4 linked regions of the Homo sapiens genome follow. The protein of the gene in region 1 purifies or fractionates together with the protein of each later gene. This does not show direct contact. Each region holds a gene or a part of one and is shown in the gene's direction. Other genes may lie near its edges.

The links. Proteins that work in one complex are often made in the same cells at the same time.
Region 2: the proteins of CDHR5 (region 1) and LEMD3 purify together in Homo sapiens (affinity purification with mass spectrometry; 2 studies listed by BioGRID and IntAct, with this or other methods). This does not show direct contact.
Region 3: the proteins of CDHR5 (region 1) and XPO7 purify together in Homo sapiens (affinity purification with mass spectrometry; 2 studies listed by BioGRID and IntAct, with this or other methods). This does not show direct contact.
Region 4: the proteins of CDHR5 (region 1) and ODR4 purify together in Homo sapiens (affinity purification with mass spectrometry; one large-scale study listed by BioGRID and IntAct). This does not show direct contact.

The regions. Positions count from the first base shown.
Region 1 is NC_000011.10:619,020-621,955, reverse strand, and holds part of CDHR5 (cadherin-related family member 5 isoform 1 precursor), read left to right. Parts: intron 1-51; coding exon 52-144; intron 145-292; coding exon 293-394; intron 395-500; coding exon 501-611; intron 612-705; coding exon 706-876; intron 877-1,569; coding exon 1,570-1,660; intron 1,661-1,791; coding exon 1,792-1,889; intron 1,890-2,074; coding exon 2,075-2,275; intron 2,276-2,368; coding exon 2,369-2,482; intron 2,483-2,565; coding exon 2,566-2,650; intron 2,651-2,775; coding exon 2,776-2,936. UniProt on the Homo sapiens protein: Intermicrovillar adhesion molecule that forms, via its extracellular domain, calcium-dependent heterophilic complexes with CDHR2 on adjacent microvilli. Thereby, controls the packing of microvilli at the apical membrane of epithelial cells.
Region 2 is NC_000012.12:65,242,583-65,245,718, forward strand, and holds part of LEMD3 (inner nuclear membrane protein Man1), read left to right. Parts: intron 1-805; coding exon 806-887; intron 888-3,086; coding exon 3,087-3,136.
Region 3 is NC_000008.11:22,003,162-22,006,661, forward strand, and holds the end of XPO7 (exportin-7), read left to right. Parts: intron 1-57; coding exon 58-156; intron 157-741; coding exon 742-869; intron 870-1,833; coding exon 1,834-1,927; 3' UTR 1,928-3,424; downstream 3,425-3,500.
Region 4 is NC_000001.11:186,385,838-186,389,337, forward strand, and holds part of ODR4 (protein odr-4 homolog), read left to right. Parts: intron 1-150; coding exon 151-246; intron 247-2,604; coding exon 2,605-2,711; intron 2,712-3,500. UniProt on the Homo sapiens protein: May play a role in the trafficking of a subset of G-protein coupled receptors.

The DNA.
Region 1 (2,936 bases):
ACCTCACAACGGGGAGGGGCTGTGGGAGAGGCTGACGGCCACATCCTGCAGGTGACCCAGCTAAGGGTGTTCGTGTCAGTGCTGGACGTCAATGACAATGCCCCCGAATTCCCCTTTAAGACCAAGGAGATAAGGGTGGAGGAGGTGAGGCCAGCGAAGCCGCGGGGACTGGGCACGGGGGTGTGGGAGCCCAGGGTGAGGGCAGGAGGTGAGTGGTGGCCGGGGGCTCAACCACAGTGGGGGTCCACAGGGGCCAAGAGTGTGGCCGGACCAAGCCCCTCTCCCTCCCCAGGACACGAAAGTGAACTCCACCGTCATCCCCGAGACGCAACTGCAGGCTGAGGACCGCGACAAGGACGACATTCTGTTCTACACCCTCCAGGAAATGACAGCAGTCAGTGCCGCCCACCCTGCCCCAGCACGAGCCCCTCGCCTCTGACACCCACAGCCGCCCTCGCCCTCCAAGGCTCTTAGGCTCTGTCCTCCCTGACCCTCCCCAGGGTGCCAGTGACTACTTCTCCCTGGTGAGTGTAAACCGTCCCGCCCTGAGGCTGGACCGGCCCCTGGACTTCTACGAGCGGCCGAACATGACCTTCTGGCTGCTGGTGCGGGTGAGCAGGTCACCCCAGCCCCGAGTCCCACACACTTGAGGCCCCCCGGCCCCAGCTGCTCCCAGGCCTGATCCAGCACAGCCGTCTGTTGCAGGACACTCCGGGGGAGAATGTGGAACCCAGCCACACTGCCACCGCCACACTAGTGCTGAACGTGGTGCCCGCCGACCTGCGGCCCCCGTGGTTCCTGCCCTGCACCTTCTCAGATGGCTACGTCTGCATTCAAGCTCAGTACCACGGGGCTGTCCCCACGGGGCACATACTGGTAATGGGGAGGGAGGGGCAGTGCACGGGGCAGGGCCTTCTAGGCAGGCTGGACACAGGGACGGCCAGGATCAGGAGAGGAAGGGCGGGGTCGGGGTCAGGGGGTGGGGCCGATTTCGGTCGTGATTTTGAAACAAATGCAGACTCTCCTTGTAAACCAACCCTTCCCATCTTGAGCGGTGAGGGAGCAAACCCTGAACACACAGGGAGGAGCGTGGGCCCCAGAGCCAGGCGGTCTCAGGGGCCTGGGGAGGTGGGCTGGGGCCCTGGAGCTCTTAAGGGATGCTGACATCTCTGCCCTGCTCACAGTCACCACTGGGCCCACACAGGCTGTCTGCAAACCTTCCTGGCACCAAGGCACCTGGGGCCACCAAACAGTACATGGGAGGCAGAAATGCAGACCCCGGGAGCCCCCACTTCCTAAATGTTTGCTTACCCGTCAAGACAAGCCTTGTGCAAATGGGACTCAGTATCTTTGGGCCACTGGACTCATTCATTAGTAAGGGACCCACAGGGGTGTTACTGATTGTGATGCTGGGACAAGGGACTGTCCTAGGCAGGCAGGGACGCCCGGCCACCAGCGGGACTGGGCCCCTCCTCAGCCAACCCTGCCCTTGATGGGGAGTCAGAGGGGCCAGGCTGGGGCCATCCACCCCAGCCCCACGACGTGCCCTCCCTTCCGCCATCCCTGAAGCCATCTCCCCTCGTCCTGCGTCCCGGACCCATCTACGCTGAGGACGGAGACCGCGGCATCAACCAGCCCATCATCTACAGCATCTTTAGGGGTGAGTGGGGCCCAGCCCTCAACAATGCCCTGTACCCCCTCTGTCCCTGTCTCCATCCCCACCTTGGGCAGAGCTGGCTGGGTCCCTGGGCCTCAGGGGGCCGGGGCTGAGCACTTCCATCATCCTCCCAGGAAACGTGAATGGTACATTCATCATCCACCCAGACTCGGGCAACCTCACCGTGGCCAGGAGTGTCCCCAGCCCCATGACCTTCCTTCTGCTGGTGAAGGTGAGGTGGGCACCTGCATGGGGGGCAGGGCAGAGGGGGAAGGGTGGAAGGTAGGGCGGGGGGTCAGGGCTGGGGGGCCGGGGCAGGGCCCCCGCCAAGTCTGCACCTGCCTTTCCTGAGCCCCAGCCTTCAGCGCCAGCTCCACCTTCAACCCCACTAGTCACTGCTGCCTCCCCCGCCTCCAGGGCCAACAGGCCGACCTTGCCCGCTACTCAGTGACCCAGGTCACCGTGGAGGCTGTGGCTGCGGCCGGGAGCCCGCCCCGCTTCCCCCAGAGACTGTATCGTGGCACCGTGGCGCGTGGCGCTGGAGCGGGCGTTGTGGTCAAGGATGCAGCTGCCCCTTCTCAGCCTCTGAGGATCCAGGCTCAGGACCCGGAGTTCTCGGTAGAGAGTGCATCCAAGGCCTCCCCTCTGTGGGTGGGTCAGGGCTGTACGTGGGAGGCAGCCTGGCCGGGGACTCAATGAGACCCTGTCCAGGACCTCAACTCGGCCATCACATATCGAATTACCAACCACTCACACTTCCGGATGGAGGGAGAGGTTGTGCTGACCACCACCACACTGGCACAGGCGGGAGCCTTCTACGCAGAGGTGCGGGGCAGGGCAGGCGGGCATCTCCAAGGGTGTGGGGCTTAAAGATGTGTCTAGGAGGGACAAGCCCCTTCCTGCCCCAGGTTGAGGCCCACAACACGGTGACCTCTGGCACCGCAACCACAGTCATTGAGATACAAGTTTCCGAACAGGAGCCCCCCTCCACAGGTAAGCCCCCCTCCACAGGTGAGCCCCCAGGGTTCTCCAAATAAGCCCCTTCGGTGGCTCCTTTCCCGCGGTAGGTGTGCAAGGGGCGGGCAGAGGCAAGCCCAAGCACTGTTCCCGGCCCCCAGATGTCCCCCCATCCCCAGAGGCTGGAGGAACAACTGGGCCCTGGACCAGCACCACTTCCGAGGTCCCCAGACCCCCTGAGCCCTCCCAGGGACCCTCCACGACCAGCTCTGGGGGAGGCACAGGCCCTCATCCACCCTCTGGCACAACTCTGAGGCCACCA
Region 2 (3,136 bases), on another chromosome or scaffold:
TTATCCCTCTTTGTCCAACCTTTCAACAGGTCATGTCATATCTACTCCATAATATGTCCTGATTCTATCCGCTTGTCACTTGCACTGTTGGCCTGTCTTACCCACATCATTATCCTCTCCTTCTTAGACAACTATAATATAATAATAACCTTCTAACTGGTCATCTTGCATTCACTTCTGCTTTTACCTGAGTCTCCACATAACAATGTATTTTTAAAATATGTAGTTTTAAAAGACAGATCTCATCCTATTCTACTCCTTAAAACAGTTGAGTGGCTATTACTCTTACCATAATGCCCAAATACTTTTTTGTAGCCTACATCATCTTAAATAATCTGACATCTTCTGTAGGTTTATCTCTATTCTTTCTACTCCAGCCACATTTGCTCCTTCGTGCCCCAGGAGCTGTGTACAAGCAATCACCTCTGCTTGAAATCTTCCTTTACACACCTCTCTTCACCCTGCTAATTTTTATTCTTCAGTTCCCACATAAATTTCACTTTTTCAGGGAAGTTTTATTTTCTCATATGAGGTTAAGTTACTTTTAAAAAGCTTTTTGTACTTTTTTTTTTAAGGACTTAATCACAGTTGTACTTTCTTACATGACACTCTTTATCATCTGTCTCTCCCATTAAACTGTAAACTCTTTGATAGCAATGACTGTCTTACTCACCTTAACATCTAACCAGGGGTCTGGCTCCTAGTAAAAGCATGCAGTGAATATTTTTTGAATGAACTGAATGATTGAATACCTTTCAACAAACTAGAACAATGTCAAATAGTAAAACTAACTTGTTTTTTGTAGCATTTCATTTAGATAGAAGAAATTCACCACCAAATAGTTTGACACCGTGTCTAAAGATTCGGAATATGTTTGATCCCGTTATGTAAGTATTATGATCAGGGGTACATGTAACTCTTATTCTGAATATTTGGCTGGAAAATGCATGATATTCTTATAATGGTGTGTCTGTAATTGAAAATGTTTTTCTTCTGAATCTCTACCACAGAAATGTTATGTTTTTCTCTTTCATTAAATTCCAAGCAAAGATTTGGCCAAAGGACACTAATGTATAAAGATTTGTAAAACTTTTATAAATCTTTGTATTCCTTATGAATCGTCATAGCAGATAGATAAATGCTTGAGGCAAATTAATGACTCACAATGACAAAGAGTACCCTTTATTAAATGTGTAAGTCATTATACATGACTGTCAATATTTTTGCCTCAGTAGAAAATATAGATACAATCACTGCTGCTTACAAATTTCAAATCTCAAATTGTAAAAAGTTTCCTACAAAGATGTATATACCTGCTTCTCTACAAAGTCCTGTCTCCACTTGTCAATATAATATTTGAAGAACTTTTCAGACTTTATAATTCCAACAACATATGCTTCCAGAGAATAGCACAGTCAAAAGTGACTGCCTTAGAATTCACAGTATTTCATATATAAGCTGTAATAGTTCTTAGAATTAGCTTCCTGAGGGCACTGCTTATCTATCCAGTGATAGTACAGATCAAATTCTGTTTGTTTTAAAAGTCCCAACAGTGGCAATTACAATATGTATACAATACCCCCAAAGTCTCATCTAATCACTCATTGATGAAATTCCAAATAAGTGACAGCAAAATTGGAAATGTGAGGAAGCAGTATGCACACGTGTTTGCACGTGGGCACGCGCACACACACACACACACACCCCCCCCACACACACAGAGACAAACACCGCCTCTATTTTGCAGAGATAGAAACAATTAGTAGTGTGATGATACCTCTGTTGGGAATCTTACCTCATGCCTTAGGAATTGGCAAGTCCACTATTTTATTACCTAAGATGAAAATTTGTGATTTGAAGTGAAGTCACTTTCCTCTCTCTCCTGCCATCTTTGTCTCACAAGCAAGACAAATGTCCCTTACTACAGCAGAAACACCTTAAAACTGTCATTATAGTAAGGTGACTGTACAAAATGTTAGTCCTGTATCAATTATTTTGGAAAAGAGAAGCTCAAATGTAGTATTTACTAAGAATTTTCTTTAGGAATTTGAACCTATCATTACAATTAAAGAAAATAACATTCGGCTGGGCACAGTGGCTCACACCTATAATCCCAGTGCTTTGGGAAGCCGAGGTGGGTGGATCACTTGAACTCAGGAGTTCGAGACCAGCCTGGGCAATGTGGCAAAACCCCGTCTCTACAAAAAATACAAAAGAAATTAGCCAGAATTGGTGGTGTGTGCCTGTAGTCCCAGCTATCTGGGAGGCTGAGGTGGGAGAATGGTTTGAGCCTGGGAGGCACATATTGCAGTGAGCCGAGATCACGCCACTGCACTCCAGCCTGGGTGACAAAGCGAGACCCTGTCTCAAATAACTAACATTTAACTTTTACAACTTTAATAAGTTCACAACTCATTTAAAGTACTTATTAACAATAGAAAGAAAACAGAAATTACTGTAAGTACACAGGATTTTTAAACATAGGAATGACCCAATCCATTTATTCTGCAGCGGTGGGCTAGTCTTTCATTGCCTCAGCTCTCTGCACTCTTTTTTTTTTTTTTTTGAGACGGAGTCTCACTCTGTTGCCCAGGGTTGAGTGCAGTGGCGTGATCTCGGCTCACTGCAAGCTCTGCCTCCCAGGTTCACGCCATTCTCCTGCCTCAGCCTCCCGAGTAGCTGGGACTACAGACACCTGCCACCACGCCTGGCTAATTTTTTTTTTTTTTTGTATTTTTAGTAGAGACGGGGTTTCACCGTGTTAGTCAGGATGGTCTCGATCTCCTGACCTCATGATCCGCCTGCCTCGGCCTCTCAAAGTGCTGGGATTACAGGCATGAGCCACCGCGCCTGGCCAGCGCTCTGCACTCTTTTACTGGAAAGTGGGAGGAGGGCTGAGACTTCTGAATTGTAATTTTTAAATCTACCTCCTGTTAGTCAACAAGCATTTACTTAATACCAATTAAAATCGTATGTGGTTTTAAAACTATACCAATTCTAGTAATATATATATGTTGTAAGAGACAGTGAAGAATTTTTACCGAGTAGGAATATGGTTGTTGATTTTTGTTTTCATTAACTTTTAGGGAAATAGGGGATCAGTGGCATTTGGCAATTCAAGAAGCAATTTTAGAAA
Region 3 (3,500 bases), on another chromosome or scaffold:
TTATCTTGGGTAGCAATACATTAGGTCACTGCCTGAAATTCTCCATTCCATTTTCAGATGCTGTCCACGGTGCTGAACATCATCATCTTTGAAGACTGTAGGAACCAGTGGTCTATGTCCCGACCACTACTTGGCTTGATATTGCTTAATGAAAAGGTGAGAGAGCCAGCTCCCTGGTGCCAACCCAGAAGCAGTGGCAACCACGCACTTGGTATCACCAAGCCCTGGGAGAAATGTGTATAGAAACACCCCACGGTGGTGAAACAGGGAAAATGGGTCATTTACTGAGCAAGTCCCATTTGTGCTTTCAGTATCACATAATCATTTAACTGTTAGAAGTCAGCATGTGTGGTAGCTCACAGACACAGGATAAAGGAGTGTTTCCCCTAGGCAGTAAGAGAAACCTTTCAAGGAAATAATGTACCTGGGTATCAGAGGACCTAAGACCTAAGTTCTAGTTCTAGCTCTGCTATAAACAAGTCTTGAGATTCTGGTAAAAGAAAGGTCTGGATAAGATGACCCTTTTAAAGTGCTTTACAATTTAAAAATTCTTGATATTCTTAGTAGGATGAAGCCATATTATCCCACAAGTGCTTGCCTGAATTTCTTTTTTAAGGGTCCAATTTTAGTAGACATTCCATTCCTCCTTAGAGAAGAACATTCTTCAACCCTGCAGATGACGGAGGGCTAATCTGCCTTCCCCTGCTTCTCTAACCTTCTGTTCCACTCCTTGCCCCACAGTATTTTTCTGACCTAAGAAACAGTATTGTGAACAGCCAGCCACCGGAGAAGCAGCAGGCCATGCACCTGTGTTTTGAGAACCTGATGGAAGGCATCGAGCGAAATCTTCTTACGAAAAACAGAGACAGGTGAGTATAAAGCGTCCTGCCTAGAAATCTCAGACAATTGCTATTTTTCAAATCAACGAAACAGGCAGTTGCTTTAAAGTCTTTGACATCTGTGTTTGGAGGCCATCTAAAGCAATGCAATGCAATAGAAAAGTGAGCCATGTTAAACAGGCAAAATTCATTTTAATAATATATTTTATTTAACCCATTGTATCTAAAATATTGTATCAGTGTGTAATCAGTATTTTAAAATTGTGGGTTTTCACATTCTTTTTGTACTACATTTCCAAAATCCTGTGTACTTTACATTTAACAGCATATCTCAGTTCATACGTTTTCATCAGAAATACTTGATCTGTATTTAGATTTCATAAATTTACAGTTGACAAAGTAGATTCCTGTAATACCCAGATTGTTTCAAACACACCTAGGGACTTTCCAGTAACTGCATTGAGTATCTGGGCTTTGCAATTAACTTTTAAATTTTATTTAATTTTAATTAATTTAAAACAAGGCATTTTAATTTAAAATTAAGATGCAGTTGGGGAGCTGAATGTTAAATTGTATTTAATTTGGATTCATGTTCTCAGTCACACTGGCCATAATTCAGGGGCACGGTAGCCATATGTGGTTAGCAGCCGCCCTATTGGACAGCATAGCACTGCACCACCTGGTCTTGCTGCATTAAGAAATGAGATGGCTTCATTGGCTTACTGCCCTCACGTGTGAGGGCAACTTCCTACTTCTGTCAGTGAGATTTCTTTTGTGCTGCCATGAGCCCAAGGTAGCCCTCAGGGCCCCAGATTTGACCAGATCTCTAAGCCAACTTTTCTCTTAGAGTCTTAAGACTGAAATTAACTGATCTTTGAAACAGAACCCATCAATTCATACATTCTACTTCCCATGCTTTAAAAAAAAAAAAAAAAAAGGCAAATACCTTTCCCCCCCACTCTCCTCCCCCAACCCACATGCATCCTCTCTGCAGGTTCACCCAGAACCTGTCAGCATTCCGTCGAGAAGTCAACGACTCAATGAAGAATTCCACTTATGGCGTGAATAGCAATGACATGATGAGCTGACACCTCCTTGGACTCTACCTGTACAGAGCAGCGTCCCTTTGGTTTGGCCCAGAGGGGCGAACAATTGCAAGGGAGAGGGCCTGGCTGATCCTGGCTCTTTTCTCCAGGGGTGTGGGGAAAATGGCAAAGGTCAACTAGCTGCTTCCCCAGGGAATAGGGGTGTGAGTACACTCACTAGGGGGCAGGGCGCTGCTGGTTCCTGGGGGACTGGGTGGGAAGGGTGGTGGGAGGAGATAAGAGATACAAACTGAGACTCCAGCCTCTCCTCCTGGGGCCACCCAAGTGGGGAGAACCCCTAGTGTCCTGCCACAACCTGCCTTGTATAAACATGTACATTTTTTCATAACATTTTGAACAAGGTTTATATTGACTCAAGTTTAAAAACAAAAAGTGTGACTGAAAAATTTTTACAGAGTCTAGTGCACCAATGCTGATGTGAGGGGTTGTGTATGCGAGTGAAGAAAATGTGTATTCTGGTGGCCTGAAGCTTTACTGGACAAGGATGTGTGAGAGTGCAGAGATATATTTAGTGACACAGTAGAGAGGCAAAAAAAAAGCTAAAATTCCAAATGTATATTTTTTCGTATTGCCCTGTCCTCACCCAGAAATGATCAATTCCTGTTACTGTATTAACCCTTGTTATTAGGAACTCTAAGCCATGCCAGAACACCGTCCCTCCCCTTGGACCGTGTAGATTCTGCCCTGGGTCCCTAGCCCCTTGCAGTGATAAATAACTCCAGCTAAAAGTGTTTGGTGTTCTTATCTCCACCCTCTTTCCTACTTTGCTTACCCTCATCCTCAGACAGATGCCTCTTGCTTTTAAAAGTTGGATTTAACGACGTGTTGTAGGGTTCTTGGTCTGTGTGAAGGCAGAGACCAGAGAGAAGGAAGTGAGCCCACTGCTCTCCTGGGAGCAATGTGGGTGAGTCCACCAGAGGCCCTGCTGTGTGTGGCCAATAAATTTTAGTCTTCCCCAGCCCTCGAGGCAGTGTGTGTGGATGTATGCGTGTGGATATTTATATATGTACCCTGCACTCATGAATGTATGAACTGGAGGAAGTTACTACAGTGGAAGGGTTCTTAATAACAAGGTCTACCTAGCATGAAGTATTTAACATTCTCCCATCCCTTAAAAAATATACATTTTTATAAAATGAAAACCATAATAAATGTTTTGAATATTAAAAAAAATAATAACCTACAGAGGAAAATTAATGGAGACAGCTATTTGCCTTGTACTTTTTCCACAATTGTTGCTGCTAGTTGTACACATCTCTAGTTCAGCTCTTGCCCACGGGACACTCATCAATTAGGTTTTATTTTTATTTCTTTCCTCTACCCCCAGAAACAAGCCTGTTAATTTTTTTTCCTTCTCCTCTGGCGACTGTGTGATGAATCCTTTCTTGCGTGATCAGGTTGCGGATAGACTTGTAAGGGTGTTTGCTGCATACAGTGTAAGCATTGTGACCGCCAATAAACTTCAATGGTTTCTACTGACCTGGCTTCAGCAATCATGTCCAGTGTGCGTCCAAGGACATGTCTCACTCAAAACACATGAAGCTGTGTGAAACAT
Region 4 (3,500 bases), on another chromosome or scaffold:
TGTAGCTAAAGGATGTTGTTATCAGATAGTTTTATTTATAAAGTAGTTTTAAGGTGAAAAGCTAAGGACATGCTAAGCAGACAGTTTCTCAAACAGAAAGGATTGCATATAATGCCAATTTGTTAGCTAATAATATATTTCTATTTTTAGGTATCCAGAATGCTACCAGGGGGACTTTTAGTTCTTGGAGTATTTATTATTACTACTTTAGAACTGGCAAATGATTTTCAAAATGCCCTGCGTAGAGTAAGTTTGATATATCGAAAATTCTTAATGAAATCAGTTATATGTTATTTTTACTGATTATGAGTATGTGTAATGATTCTAGGCATATTTACATTTGTTTTCCATAATTCTTTTTGTTGGGGTTACATTGAAAAAGCTTTTGTCACTCAATTGCTTGGATATCTTGAGTGTAAAAAATGTTTATATTTTTAAAAACTACACATTTTATTTATTATTTTTTCCATGGGTAATTTTATTCTTTATTTAGTACACTACCCAAAACAGGGCTATCATCAGCCCATATGGCATTTCATACAAATTTGAAAAAGCTATTCTTTCCTCAAGTTAAAAAGTTAAATTATTTACTTCTCAATAATAACCATGACTAATGACAGTAATTCCATGTAAATTATGCAAACAAATAATTCATTGTAAAATATTGAAAAATTCAAATGATTAATTATAATATTAAGAACTCAAAGTCACTTGGATCTAATAATTTGTTGTAAAAAAGGCATCTTTGTGGAAGTAATTCTTTTTGACAGAAAAACTACATATTTTAAAATAATCTTTATTTTAGAGGTAATTTCTGACTATTAGGAAACAAATTATAATGCTTTAAACAGTTTTTCTTATGCAATAGCAGTATTCTGTCACACCTTCCATTTAGTACCTAGTGATTACTGTAACATGAAATTAATAGGTGCTGAAATTCTTTACCTTCTTCTCAATTCTCCGGAGATCCTGAGAGTAAAACATAAACAATCAGATTATTCCTGGACACAGTATCTATCAGAAATCTCCTGTGTTTTTTGCTTAATTGCTGCACCAGAGAATTGGGTAACATAGTGTAAAAGTAAATATGAAGGTCCACATGCTGTTTTCCCTTAAACCCAAACCTAAGGTAGATTCTGTGTAGCCAGCTCTTTTAGCATTCAGGATCCACATGAACTTTTTGAAGGGTATTTCATACCCCAAAAGAGGGGGAACCTTAAAATCTTGAGACATATAAAACCCAACCCCAACAGTATCCCAGAAAAACATTTTTTAGGTAAAAAATATACAGCTGAGAACTTCAGATGTTACAGATTTTTTCAGTCTTGTAACCTGTCCTGTCAGATGTCCCAGCCTCAAGCCTTTGATATTTGCACCTAAGGGAGTAAGGGAAGAAAATGGAGATATTCTCCTCCCTGCTAAATTGTTTAACCCTCTGCCAACTTTTCCATCTTAAATAAATTTACCTTGTTTACAATTGTTCATTCTCTTTGGCATTTTGAAATTTAACCGAAATCTATGCGTATTTAATATTAATAGCATTCATTGTGCAACCTTTTTTGGCTGGTGCTGAATTGAGGGGGTTGAATGTGGGCCCAGTGCTAGAGAGATACAGCCAGGCCCACTTTCCTTGCTTTTGTATCTTTTGTTCCTAAAAAGTATATAAAACTTTAGAAATGCTTTATCTCTGACATTACTGAGTTTCAATTATCTAATTGTTTCCACTGGCTACACTGACAAACACTACAAGAAACAGCCTTATAAAACTTGTCAGTGTCACCCATTATTGTTAAGGACTTTATTCATCATATTACATTAATATTGTGTTTCCGGAAGAATTTCTTTTTATATTATGAAGAAGGTTGTGCCTCCTCTGATGATTGTTTTTAGCTTACAGACCATGTGAATTAGGTTACAGATTAGATTTCTCTCTGCACATTATTGTTAGAAAGCTTAGACCGAAATGTATTACCACCCCTTACATCAAGTATGCATTTTTATAATTCTTATTTCTGACACAAATTTATCTCACTATTCTACTTTAACTTTCAATTTGTTATTACTATATTTTATATGTTGTTATATATTGCCTTAAGTCTTGTGTGACGTTTAAATAAGAAATGCTAAATGGGTGACATGCTTGATTTCTTTAGTTAAAATCACTTATCATTTCTCATTCTAATTAAAGTCTCTGTTCTATAGTTTATATAAATTCTAGTTGCCCCAAATTAATTTTTTGTGTCCAGTTAATCTCTAATGATAGTGAATTAAATTTTTTTATTTAAACCCAATTTTTCTGTAATTTCCTAAAAGGAATTCAAAAATGTTAGTAATTAGCTCCAGTCTTTAATTTGAAGAAAAGAAAAATTAATGGTGGCACACACCTGTAGTCCCAGTTACTTGGGAAGCTGAGGTGAGAGAATCACTTGAGCCCAGGTGTTCAAGGCCAGCTTGAGCAACATAGTGAGACCCCTTCTCCAATAAATAAAGAATCATGGAATTTTAAAGCTAAATGAGAGTTGGGGACATTATAATTGCCTATTTCAACACTCATCTTTTTTTTTCATTTTACATTCAATTAGTGTGTATTTTTCTCTCTTTCAGCTAATGTTTGCTGTGGAAAAGTCTATAAATAGAAAGAGATTGTGGAATTTCACAGAGGAGGAAGTCTCAGAACGAGTGACACTTCACATTTGTGCTTCTACAAAAAAGTATCTTTTGTTCAGTTTATGGTTTAAAAGTACAAAGTACCAAAATAATATTCTTGCAAGGTTTTTTTGCTATTTATTTAAATCATCATTTAAAAAATAGGCATAGTTTTGTAAGATTTTTCTGTAAATAACATGGAATTAGAGCCACCAATAATAATAATAGCAATAATGGTTGTTAATCATGTCCCAAGGTGATAAAAAGCTTGAGATCTGTAATATGAAAGACTCAGGATTCTGAATTTTTTACCAGCTATCTGCCCTGTACATCCAAGCACAGCAGATTCCCTACAGAGATAAATGCCTAACTGATGGCTTAGGCAAAGTAATGTTTTTATTATGTTAAAGTTTTCACCTCCAGTTTCTATAGATAAGGATGTACAATTCAAAGCACAGGTGCACAGAGCTGGATGGTATAGGACATCGGAGAAATTCTTATGTCTTTGGCTAAGATGAAATGACACTAAAAGCCAGTTACACGGCCTCTTACCAGGGCAAGAGTACCTCCCAAGCAAGGGTCATCCTCACCAAAGGAGTGACACGATCCATGGACTTCCAAAGACAGAATTTTAAAAGTGACCATTCCTGCAGAAGCAGGGCTTTTTTTTTTTTTAACAACAACAAAAAAAATCTTTAGTATTTAACTGCAAAGTTTCATATACAAGCCCTTTAATCCAATAAATAGTCTCAGGTTTGACCTCATATAAAACAGTGGTACTTTTTCTTATGGAGAGTGTATATTTGAGAAGAATCTCACGAGTGCTTTGATTCTATTTATTGCAATTAGCGGGA